Linked DNA regions of Homo sapiens: region 2 is linked to region 1. The links come from fine-mapping of genetic effects on gene expression. A gene starts in region 1. The other region holds a variant in brackets. All regions are shown on one strand. Distances are between the middles of the regions.

What was found. PIP is the estimated chance that this variant, and not a neighbour inherited with it, causes the effect.
Region 2: its variant is the best candidate, but not a certain one, in a credible set for the expression of TREX2 in unexposed skin (GTEx, PIP 0.63).

What each region holds. Positions count from the first base shown.
Region 1 is chrX:153,442,896-153,448,239 of GRCh38, forward strand. TREX2 (three prime repair exonuclease 2) reads right to left here and starts at 3,161. Exons shown (of 2, transcript NM_080701.4): 1 at 3,114-3,161; 2 at 1,578-2,600. The coding sequence starts at 2,535. The coding sequence ends at 1,825. It overlaps HAUS7 (HAUS augmin like complex subunit 7), which reads right to left. Exons shown (of 10, transcript NM_001385482.1): 10 at 4,773-5,014. The coding sequence ends at 4,983.
Region 2 is chrX:153,497,522-153,502,887 of GRCh38, forward strand. The region is part of intron 1 of BGN (biglycan); the gene reads left to right. Among named protein-coding and RNA genes, the nearest start is that of BGN, 5.2 kb to the left of the region's middle. The variant A/G (reference allele first, on the strand shown) is at 2,039.

The DNA of each region.
Region 1 (5,344 bases):
GCTTGTGACACTCTCCCAGGTGATGCTCTCCTCGGGAAGCTTGGCTGTGACAAGATCTTCTGGTTACTAACCACATTCCCAAACTAGGTCCTGTGGGGCTTCCCCAGACCGTGCCCCCTCCCCTCCCCTGCTGCCACTGTCCTTGGCCAGGCCCATAGCTCTCCCTCCCTCCACCAAAGCCCTCCATGCTCTGCTTCTGCCCGCCTTGCCGTCGCTGTCCTCTCCAGCCCATTCTCCATGCAGCAGCCTGATGTGGTTTGGACGTTCGTCCCCTCCAAATCTCAGTTTGAGATGTAACCCCCAATGTTGGAGGTGGGGCCTTGGTGGGAGGCGTTTGGGTCATGGGGTTGGATCCCTCATGAATGGCTTGGTGCCGTCCTCACCTCCGCAAGGAGTTGAATTCTCGCTGTGAGTTCACCTCCCCGCCTCTCTCTTGCTCCCCCTTTGCCTTCTGCCATAAGTGGAAGCTTCCTGAGGCCCCACCAGTTAACAGATGCCAGCACTGCTGAGCCAAAATAAACCCGCTGTCTTTGTAAATGACCCAGCCTCAAGTATTTCTTCACAGCAACTCGAGAACAGCTCGGCACGCAGCCCAAGCAGCATATGGCAGAAGCCTACACCAGACTTTTCCCCTCTCCTGCTCATGACCCTCCGCGGCTCCCCGCTGCCATCAGGGTCAGGCCTGGCCCGGGCCACAAGGAAGGTCTGAGGTGGTCACTGCCTGTGCTCTGGCCTCACCATCCTACCACCGTGCACGCTGCAGTGGCTCCAGTCATTCTGACCTACTTAGGGCTTCCCAGATTGTCCAGCTGGCTGGAGGCTCAGGCTTTGCTCATGTGAGTCACTCTCAGGCGTGGCCACCCCATCCCTTCTTACCTGACCCAGCGTTGGTGACAGGTCTCTCCCCACCCATGAGGCCTCCCAAGACTGGAAGTGCCTCAGGGTGGGGCCCCTGAGGCAGGTTAGCAGGGAACCCAAAGCACAGTGCGGTGGCCAGAAGCTGCCCTCCCACCGAGCGGCCTCCTGGCCCTACGGGGACACGGGCTGCAGGATAGGCTCCCTTCCAGGGTCACCCTCACAGCACCAGCCACCCCACCTCTGCTCCGTGCACCGTCAGGGCCCTTAGCATGTACATGTACATGTGCATGCCCACATGTGGGGGCACCTCCCTTTTCCCCAGCACCCCGTTTCTTAACATTTCACCCTGTTACCACTTCACAGAGCAGGGACAGAGACTCCAGGTCCCACGGCGGGCAAGCGCTGCAGCTGAGCTTTGTGCCCAGGCAGGCGGCCGGCTCTGTGGGCTTAAGGCCCTACTCATGGCTTCTTTGGGCCTCTGGGGTGACAATGCAGATGGGCGGCAATCAGCCCACAGCCACAACCCATCAGCCCTCAGACCAACCCAAGAGCTTGACGTCTCCCTACCCAGCCACCCACGGTCCTCACCGCGAGGAGAGGCCATAGGGGGGCGGCCCTGGAGGTCTTGTGCTGGCCCCTGGCATGGCTCACCGCCTGGCCCTGCTCAGCAGGGGGTCGAGGGAGTCCAGCCCCTAGTATCTGGCCAGCTAGTCGGAGGGTGAGTAGTTGGCAATGTTTATTGGGAAACAGCAAACTCTGCTGGGCACCCAGGCCAGCCGGGAGAGCACGGCCCTGGAAGCGGGGCCTGGAGAGGAATCCAGGGCCGTATGGCTGGTCAGGCAGCCAGGGAAGGCCTGGCAGGTGCACGGACCTGAGGCTGCCCAGATAGGAGGAGCCGGGGGTGGTAGAGGCCAGCTGAACGGTGGAGGCTGGCACTGTCCATGGCACAGGAGGTGGCCCTGGTGCTCAGGCCTCCAGGCTGGGGTCATCAGGCGGCAAGTACATGGGCTCGATGTGGGCCCACCCACGGGCCTGCTCATCGGCCCAGGCGAGCAGCTCTGCGGCGCGGTGCAGGAAGATCAGGAGCAGGGTGTGCACGTCGCCCTCGGCTGAGTGGGCTGCGCTTGGCTCTGCCCGGAAGTAGCGGTGGAAGAGGCTGCCGAGGCTGTAACCCTGGCGGCCCCGGGCCCGGGTGCCGTGGCTGTGGGCGCGGTCCAGGCCCCGCAGGGCCGGCAGCGTGTCCAGGCAGACAGTGTCCCGGGGCAGGCGGGCACCCAGGCGCCGCAGCTCGGCACACAGCAGGGGGAAATCATAATCAAAGCCATTGTGGGCCACAAGGCAGATGGGCCCTGCCTGGCGGCTCAGGAAGGCCTGCAGCGTCCGCACCACGGCGCCATCAAAGCCAGCCTTCCGGCATCGCGCCAGGCCCTCACTGCTCAGGCCGGTGATCTCGCTGGCCTTGGCAGTGAAGGGGCGCTCCGGGCACATGCACAGCGTGAGCTTGTCCAGGACCCGGGGCAATACTAGGGCACCAGACTCGTCGTGCTCCGGGTTCTCCAGGGAGGAGCGGTGGACAGCAAAGAGGGACAGCTCGGCAATCTCGGGCTCCACACTGGGGAGCCCAGTGGCTTCCAGGTCCAGGAAGACAAAGGTCTCGGCCCGGGGTGCCTCGGACATGGTGATGTTCCCACGGGGATAGCAAGTCCTCAAACTGTCCGAGCGAGAGGCACAAACCCTGAGGACTGGAGAGAGGGGTTCGCCCGGGCCCTGCTGTGTACCATCCTCCCCCTAGCCAAAGCTCTGACCCTTCTGGGGCTCACTTCCTGCCACCCCCGACCACAGCACCTGTGACCTTTGGCTCTGGGAGCGTCAGCCCCACTCCTGTCACCTACTGAACAGAAAAGGCAGGCCTCAGAGCGCTCTACTGCCTGCCTCCAGCCACAGTCCCCAGCAGGGATTGGGAGAGGCAGAGGCAGCTCAGGGACCGCACCTTGGCGGGGTCCAGCCCCTTCACCGGAATGCCTTGGCTGGGAACCTGGGGCATAGCACACTGGGTCTCCAGCCCTGGAACCAGCTGCCGGGAAGCAGGCAAGCAGCCACCCGAAAGAGCCCATGCAGTGCACCCAGCTCCCGCTGGGCTCGACCTCCCCACCCTTGTCCCTGGCACACAGGTGCTGGTCCCGAGCTGGCCTCTGCCTGCTTGCCCCCAGGCTCCCGGGGAGACTGTCCTTGCCAACCCCACCACACCAGCTTACCTGGGGCGGGCACTGACCGGCTTCCTGGGCTTCTGGGCACCTGTCGCCACACAGGCTGCTCTAGGCGGCCTTTAATCAGCGGCCGCAGCCCGCCCCCAGCTGCCTGTTGGCCAACAATGAGGCCTGGGGCCTCAGGACCTGCGCAGCCGGCTCGCTCGCCACCCCCTCGCTAGCTCACAGCCACTGAGACACACGCCCCGTGTTTACAAATTAGGAAGCAGGCCCCGAGCTCTTCACAGGCACGGGGAGGAAGCCAGAGTGGTGCGGAAGGCAGTAACCTCCACCTAGCCAGGCTGTGGCTGCCAGGCCTGGCAGGCCTGGGGTCAATGCCTCCCCCATGCTGGGGCCAATGCCTCCCCCATGCTGGGGCCAGTTACACAAAGGCAACAGGTCCTCTTTGCCAGGCCTCAGTCTCCCCGTCACTGGAGATCAGGTGCCGCTCGTGGGGATGAAGCGAGCTCTGGAGTGTGACCAAGGTGCCCACACATGCCGTGCTCAGCCTCCAAAGGGGAAGGGGTGCTCCCCCAAAACCTAGGGATGGGGCAGCCTCGGGAGATGCTATCTGCTTTAAGGACGTCGCTTCATCATGTCTACCGTGCACCTAACAGTGGCTGCTGGGGAAGGAAGGGAGGTGGGCCTGGCCCGGGAGCTGTGCAGGCCGCAGCTGAGCTAATGCTTCCTCCACCACAGATAAGCAACGTTAGGGGGTGGGCCAGGAGCGCCGGGACTACAGGAGGAGTGAAGCCCAGCCCCTCGGACCCCAGGCTCAGGGACCTGCCCTGTCTATCCCGCTCCAGGCAAAGGGCACCAGGTCCTTCCCGGTCCTGCGAGCAGTGGCGCCCTGAAGACCTCATTCTGGAGCAAGAGACAACAGCCCTTGATGGTGGGTGCACTGCAGGGCCAGCCCCATGCTGGGGGCACAGAGAGGTGACCAAGAGGAGTCCCTTGGCCTATAAATCAGGTGGTGCACCTGCACCATGGTGACCACAGGCCTGCCCGGCCTCCCACCTCTCACAGTGGTGGCTGGGGGATGCCTCAGGCGACTGGGATGGAGGGGGGTCTGGCACCTGGCTCCTCCTGGCCTCCTTGCCTTGTGTGCCCACAGGGACCTTGGGGAAGCAAAGGAGATGGTGCCAGGAGGGAGCAGGGTGGGGCGGGCAGCAGCAGGTACAATGGCCCCAAGGAGGCAGAGGCCCTACCAGTCACGCCTGTTCCGGTACTCACAGGGAGGGAGGCAGCTGTGACAGGCACACTGCTCAGGGAGATACTGGGTCACCCTGGGAAGCCCAGACAGCATCTTCCTGGACAACCAGTCAGGCTGAATTCCCCAGCCCAGAGCTGAGCGCCCAGCCAGGGAGGAGCAGGAAACTGGTACCCCGCGGGGGATCCAGGGGCACTCAAGGAGGGCGGCTGAGGGGTGCGTCTCGCACAGGACCCTAAGGCCAGCCGGGGGAGGCGACAGTGGGTTCTCTGCTTTCAAGTGGCTGGCAGCAGCAGGGAGGAGTGGAGCCACAGGAAGAGGACGCAGCCCAGGCCCGCCAAGATGACAGGAGGGCCGCCGCCAGCCTGCCCAGACCTGGGCCACCTGAGCAGCTCAGGACAAGGGGAAGGAGAGAGACATAGAGCTGAGGAAGCAGAAAGCAGGCTGGAGGCAACTGCTTAGAAACCAAGGCTTTCTTTGTGTCCAAGTCAAACCGCCCGTCTGTCTCTCCCTCCCCAAAGGGGCCAAAGGTCCCTGCCTAGAGCACAACGTGGGGCTGCAACGGCTTCTGCTGCCACAATCATCCATCCTCGGCCAACTCGATCTTGGGAGAGGGCTTCCTGCCCGCCCCATCCTGTGCTTTGGCGTAGGCCATCACTGAAGACTTTCTATTTCTCCATTAGTTCATTCATCTTGGTAGCTGCAGAGGAAAGAAAAGAAACCAAAAGGATGGTGGGAGTGTAAACTAGTTCCACCATTGTGGAAGTCAGTGTGGCGATTCCTCAGGGATCTAGAACTAGAAATACCATTTGACCCAGCCATCCCATTACTGGGTATATACCCAAAGGACTATAAATCATGCTGCTATACAGACACATGCACACGTATGTTTATTGCAGCACTATTCACAATAGCAAAGACTTGGAACCAACCCAAATGTCCAACACTGATAGACTGGATTAAGAAAATATGGCACATATACACCATGGAATACTACGCGGCCCATAAAAAAAGATGAGTTCATGTCCTT
Region 2 (5,366 bases), 55 kb after region 1:
GAGCCCTTTCCGCAAGTCTTAGAGGGACCAGCTGTGGGGTGTGTGCAGAGGGGCTGCGCTGTGGGGAGGGCGCATGGCTCAGTCCTCCTGGCCTGAGGCCCGCCTAGCCTAAGTGGCCTCCAGGACCCATGGCCAGGCCCTTCTGCAGCCTTCCAGAAAGAACCAGCTTCCCAGGGTTCCCTGGGGAAGGCCTGGGGCCACCTCCTCTGGAGGGGTGGGGCCTGTGCTTCATTCCTCCTTCCCCAGGTCCCCTTCCAGGCCAGAAGATCCCCTCCACCACTTGAATCCCACAGCCAGAAGCCCCTTCTGGGACTCTAGACTCCTGGGAACCATCCCAGCTGCCCCCTTCGCTGTTTCGCTGTTTGCCTTCTTCCCCTGCCCCGTCATGGCTCTAGGTCAGAGCAGCCTCTGGGGTGGCTATGGAGGGGCCACCAGCCTTGGCTCTTCCGAGGACTGCAGAACCCTCCCACTCCCAGCTTCCCACCTGCGCAGCTCTGATCCCAGCCAGCCCAAGGGGCAGGGTCAGGTCCCGGCTCCCTGGCAGGCCTGGTGAAGGTGCTGCCCATTCCCATGAGGCTCATCTCTGAGGCTTAGGGGCCTGGGGCTCTAGCCAGCCTTCTTGCATGGAACTCTCCTGGTCCACTGCATCTTAAGCCTGAGCTCCACTTAAACACTGGCCTGAGATAAGCTGGAGGACCAGGGGCCCAACGGACTCTGTGGGCCTCTTGAACTTGCCTCTGCTGGCCATCCCAGTCCTGTTTGGTCCCTGAGGTGTTCAGATGGGCCAAGGGGAGCATGGCGGGCAGACTCCTGGGTGGCCAGAAGATTAGAAGGCAGCCCTGTCCCTGGAGGCAGGGGAAGTCTGGGAAGCCAGTGTGACTTCTATCCTCTGGAAGTCTGAGTCCCTGCTTGGCCTTGACTGCCATCCCATGGTTCTTGGAGGCTGCCCTCATGCAAAGAGACACACACCCATGGGAGCCCAGCAGTCCCAGGAGCCTGAAGCTAAGCAGGCTGTGGGCCACCCTGGCTGGCTGAAGGAGGCTAATCCCAGCCCAGCCTGAGCCCCCGGCAGAGAGCGGGTTGCGGCAGGGAGGGGCTGCAGGAAACCTTCCCCTCCCCTCCTGGCCTTGGTGGGCCTGTACCAGGGAGGGAGGGAGGCAGGGCCCCAGGCTCTGGGGGGCAGGCCGGGAACACCTTCCCTGGGGCCCTGAAGTGCTCGCCTGGGGAGACGATGGCTTTTCCAGGAGACTCCCTGCAGACAGAGGCAGAGGTGAGAGGCTGGGCGGGGGCTGCCCTGCTGGCTGTGTTGGGGCTGAGGAGGGGCTTCTGGATCTGTGGGCCATAGGGAGCTACTGATGGTCCTCAGAAGGGCCATGCTTCCAGGGGAGCCCCCTGCACAGCCCCGAGAGTGTGAAGCGTGTCAGCTTTGGGGCCTGTGGCACTGTGTGCATTGGGAGAGGGTGGGTCCAGACATGGGGGCAAGGACACAGACGGACAGACAGACAGTGTGTGCAGCCCCAGCTCTGCTGTTTCCTCACCGTGTGGCCTTGGGCAAGAGTTTGGGGCCAACTTCCTGAGCCTCAGTTTACCCCTTCATCAAGTTCTAAGAGCATTGCTTCCTTCTTATAGTCAACGGGGGACGGCAGGATGCTAAGTAAAGAAATCACATGAGTCCCCTGCTCTGCCTCTGAGAGGTGACAGCATCCTCCCTTTTCCTTGGAGACTCTAGCAGGAGGCCCCGGATCTCTTCGGAGAGTGGGAGGGGGCAGCAGTAGTCCGTGTGCAGAGGACCAGGAGCGCACAGTGGGAAGGGCTGAGTCCCGCACTCCGCCGACTGTGGGGACAGGCTGGACCTTGACATGGGCGCCACAGGCTGCAAAGGGCTGGCACAGAGAGGTGGGAGGTGGCTGGGCGCATCAAGGGAGAACTCCACCCTTGTCGCCACCCTGCCAGAAAACCTCTGGAAAGGATTTGAGCAGCAGATGAGCCGGGGTTTCCCAGCCCCTCCACACGTGGCTGCAAGGGGAGCAGACGCCCA[A/G]GCGTGGCTGCCTGAAGGGCATGCTCCGGCAACGGCAGGGGCTTGGAATGTGGCACAAGGTCCACCCCTCCCCACTCCAGCCCCCAGCCCCTCAGGCAGCCACTCCCACAGATGAACGCACACGCCGGGCTTTGGCAAGGCCAGGGAGGGTACACATCCCCTCTCTGGTTGATGCCCAAGTACAGGCTGGAGCCATCGGCGGGGAGGGACTGGTGGACTGGGGCCTGGGAGAGTGGCAGGGGGCAGGCCGGGTGTCAGCGGGGGCACAAGCACCAGGCTGCTGGTTGAAACTGGGCCCAAAAGGCTTTGGAGGCCAGAGGGGAGGGGAGGAAGGACACAGTCCCGGGGACCCCGCAGGGCTGCGTGGAAGGTGGCACATGTGTCAGAGTTCAGGTCGGGTTGCTCAGGGGGGCAGACGCCCAGGGCTGAGGCTGCGGAGACAGCATCCGGCGTCTGCCACTTGGCAGCTGTGAGCCACACCATCTGCAGGCGAGCTCCCAGGGCCCGCCAGACCTCAAGCCCTGCTCCCGCCGCCCTTGGCCTGGCCTGAATGCCTGGCACGGACCCTCCATGTTCTCAGAGGCTGCCAACGCATCTTGTTTGGCTGTGACCTCGAGCAATCCAGTGCAGAGGACTGCGCTAGCTTTCAGAGGGGCAGACAAGGAGGGCCCTATTGGGGTGGTGGCGGAGGCTCCAGGAAGCCCAGCCTCCTCCCTCACTCACACCTGCGGTCGCCAAACCTGGGGCTTATGCCATTGCCGCCCCTGTCCTTTGCTCTAAAGAGATGGTATCCAGGGAGCTCAGGGCACACTTTGGTGGGGCTTGAAACCCTCCCTGAAGTCCCTGAAGACACACCCAGAGAGGCCAATGAAGGGAAACTGAGGCCCAGAGGCCTCAGTTGTGGTGGTGGAGAGTTGAGGACTGGAGGGACTTGCTGTGGGTCTCACAGGATCTGACTATGGGGTATTCCTGCTTCCTGGGCTGGGGTCCCCGCCTGCCTTATCTATGTGTGGATATATGTGTATGTATGTGTATATGTATACATATGTATATGTGAATGTGTGTATGCATGTGTGTATAGATGTGTGCATGTATGTGTGTACATATGTGTATGCGTGTATACAGGTGTATATGTGCAGGTATGTATGTATGTATGTGTGCATGTATGCATGTGTGTGTGTGTGTACGTGTGTATAAATGTGTATGTGTGCGTGTGTGTGCATGTGTGTGCATGTGTGTATGTGTGCATGTGTGCATGTGTGTATACATGCATGCATGTGCGCATGTGGATGTACATGTGCATGTATGTGTATAGATGTGTGCATGAGTGTGTGTGCATCTGTGTATATATGTGTGTATATGTGTATCATATGTGTATGTGAATGTGTATACATGGGTATGCATGTGTGAGTGTCTAGGTGTGTGCATGTATATGTGTGTACATGTGTGTATAGGTGTGTGCACGTATATGTGTGGATGTGTGCATGTATGTGGATGCATGTGGATGTGTGTACATATGTGTTTTGTATAGGTGTGTGCATGTGTGTGTGCACGTGTGTACATATGTGTTTTGTATAGGTGTGTGCGTGTGCACGTGTGTGTATGTGAGCGTGTATGTGTGCATCTGTGTGTGTGTTTGTGTGTGTATGTGTGTACGTGTGTGTGTGTGCATGTTCTGGCAGGAGGGAGGGGCTTGGTGTGAGGTGGTGGGGAGAAGGCAGGGGCCAGGCTTTGGGAGGACAGCTGAGCCTATACTGCCAGGACCTCCCAAACTGCCACCCCCAGTCTTGGGCATTCAGGCTCTCACAGGCCCAGAGACATGGCTGGAGCCCTGTGGCTGAGGAGCACAGCTGAGAGCTCAGGCGGGGCCTGGAGGCGCCAAAGCTGAGTTCCAAGTCAGGCTGAGTGACTTGGGAGAAATCAGAGCCTCTCTCTCGGCCTTAGCTTTTGTGTCCATAAAATGGGGATACTCATCAGGCCAGCTCCAGGGGATCCTATCCTTCCCCCCAGGCTCCCCTGGCTCCCTCTGACTTCATGGGCCCCTTGCTGCCTCCTGTGGGCTCAGACACGGAGCCTGCCCCTTCCTCGGGAGAGGTCTCAGTTTTGTGCCAGTTCTTTGAGGGGAAATGAGGGATGTGCCGGGAAGCCTGCCCGGCCCCCGCCCCTCCAGCCTGCCCACTGCTTGGGCACAGCCATGAGCCATGGAAAACCAGCCAAACCTTGTCCTTCTGCCTCTGTCACGGGGCCCGGGTGTATGGGCCTTCCAGCCCTCAGCCTCCCTCCCCGCTCTGAGGGAACCTCTTCCCCTTGCCCCTTTCTCAGTCTCTTGGAGACCCCCCAGACATCCTACTGTATCAGGCAGCCTGCCTCCAGAGCCCTCGTTGCCCCACAGCTGGTCCCGGGAACCCGCCTGAGACCCCGATGGCCAGTCTTGCCGTGACTGGCCTGCCCTGTGCCTGTGCCCCCTGCCCTGGTGGAGGGCCCGATTCCCTAACAGGAGGGCCTGCAGGGAAGTCCCAGCTCCTGGGGAGACCCCTTGCCCCGGGGCAGGAGTCCCTGTAGAGTCCTCCTCCAGGCCAATGCGTGGGTCCTGGGGGGCTCCAAGCTGGCCATGGTCAGATGGTCCTCTGTCCCCTCGGCCTTCCCCAGCCCCTCCCCACAGCCTCCCGTAGGCCCAGCCGGACCACCCCAACCCTACCTGTCCAGGTGGACTGCCCACCCTGGAGCTTGCCAGGGCTCTGGCGGGGTGTCCCAGCCCTGACTCACTCTCCCTGGGAGGTAGCGGCTTTGGCAGGGGCATCGGCAAGGAGGGGCAGGGCAGTCTCCTCCCTCCCCCACTCCATCTTGCTCTCCTGCTTCCACCCTGCCCTTCCTGTTCTCTCCCACTGCTCCTCCTCCTCCTCCTCCTTCTGCCCCCGGGTGTCCACTGGCACTGGGAGAGGGTCCTACAGCGGCAGCAGGCATCGGAGGCCCTGCCCTGCCCTGGAGGAAGGGAAACACCATCCAGGTAGGTGAGTGTTGAGCCTTCTCCCTACTTGGGGGCCAAGACCCTCCGGGCGGTTCCCCTAGGTTCTGCTGGGCCGGCCTGAGGCTGGCAGGCCCTGGGCTGCAACTGTGGGATCTCAAGGCTCAAAAGAATGAGGGAGGCTCGGTGCTGCCCCAGCAGGGGCCTCCTGGTGACCCCAGGGGTCAGCATGAAGTCCAGCTCCACATGAGGGGGAAGCTGAGCTAAGCCTTGGGCTCCGACTCCCACTTTGCAGTGTGGCCCAGGGCCTGTGGGCTCAGGAGGGCTCCGGGGCTGGCTGCGGAAAGGCCACTCCACAGGCCT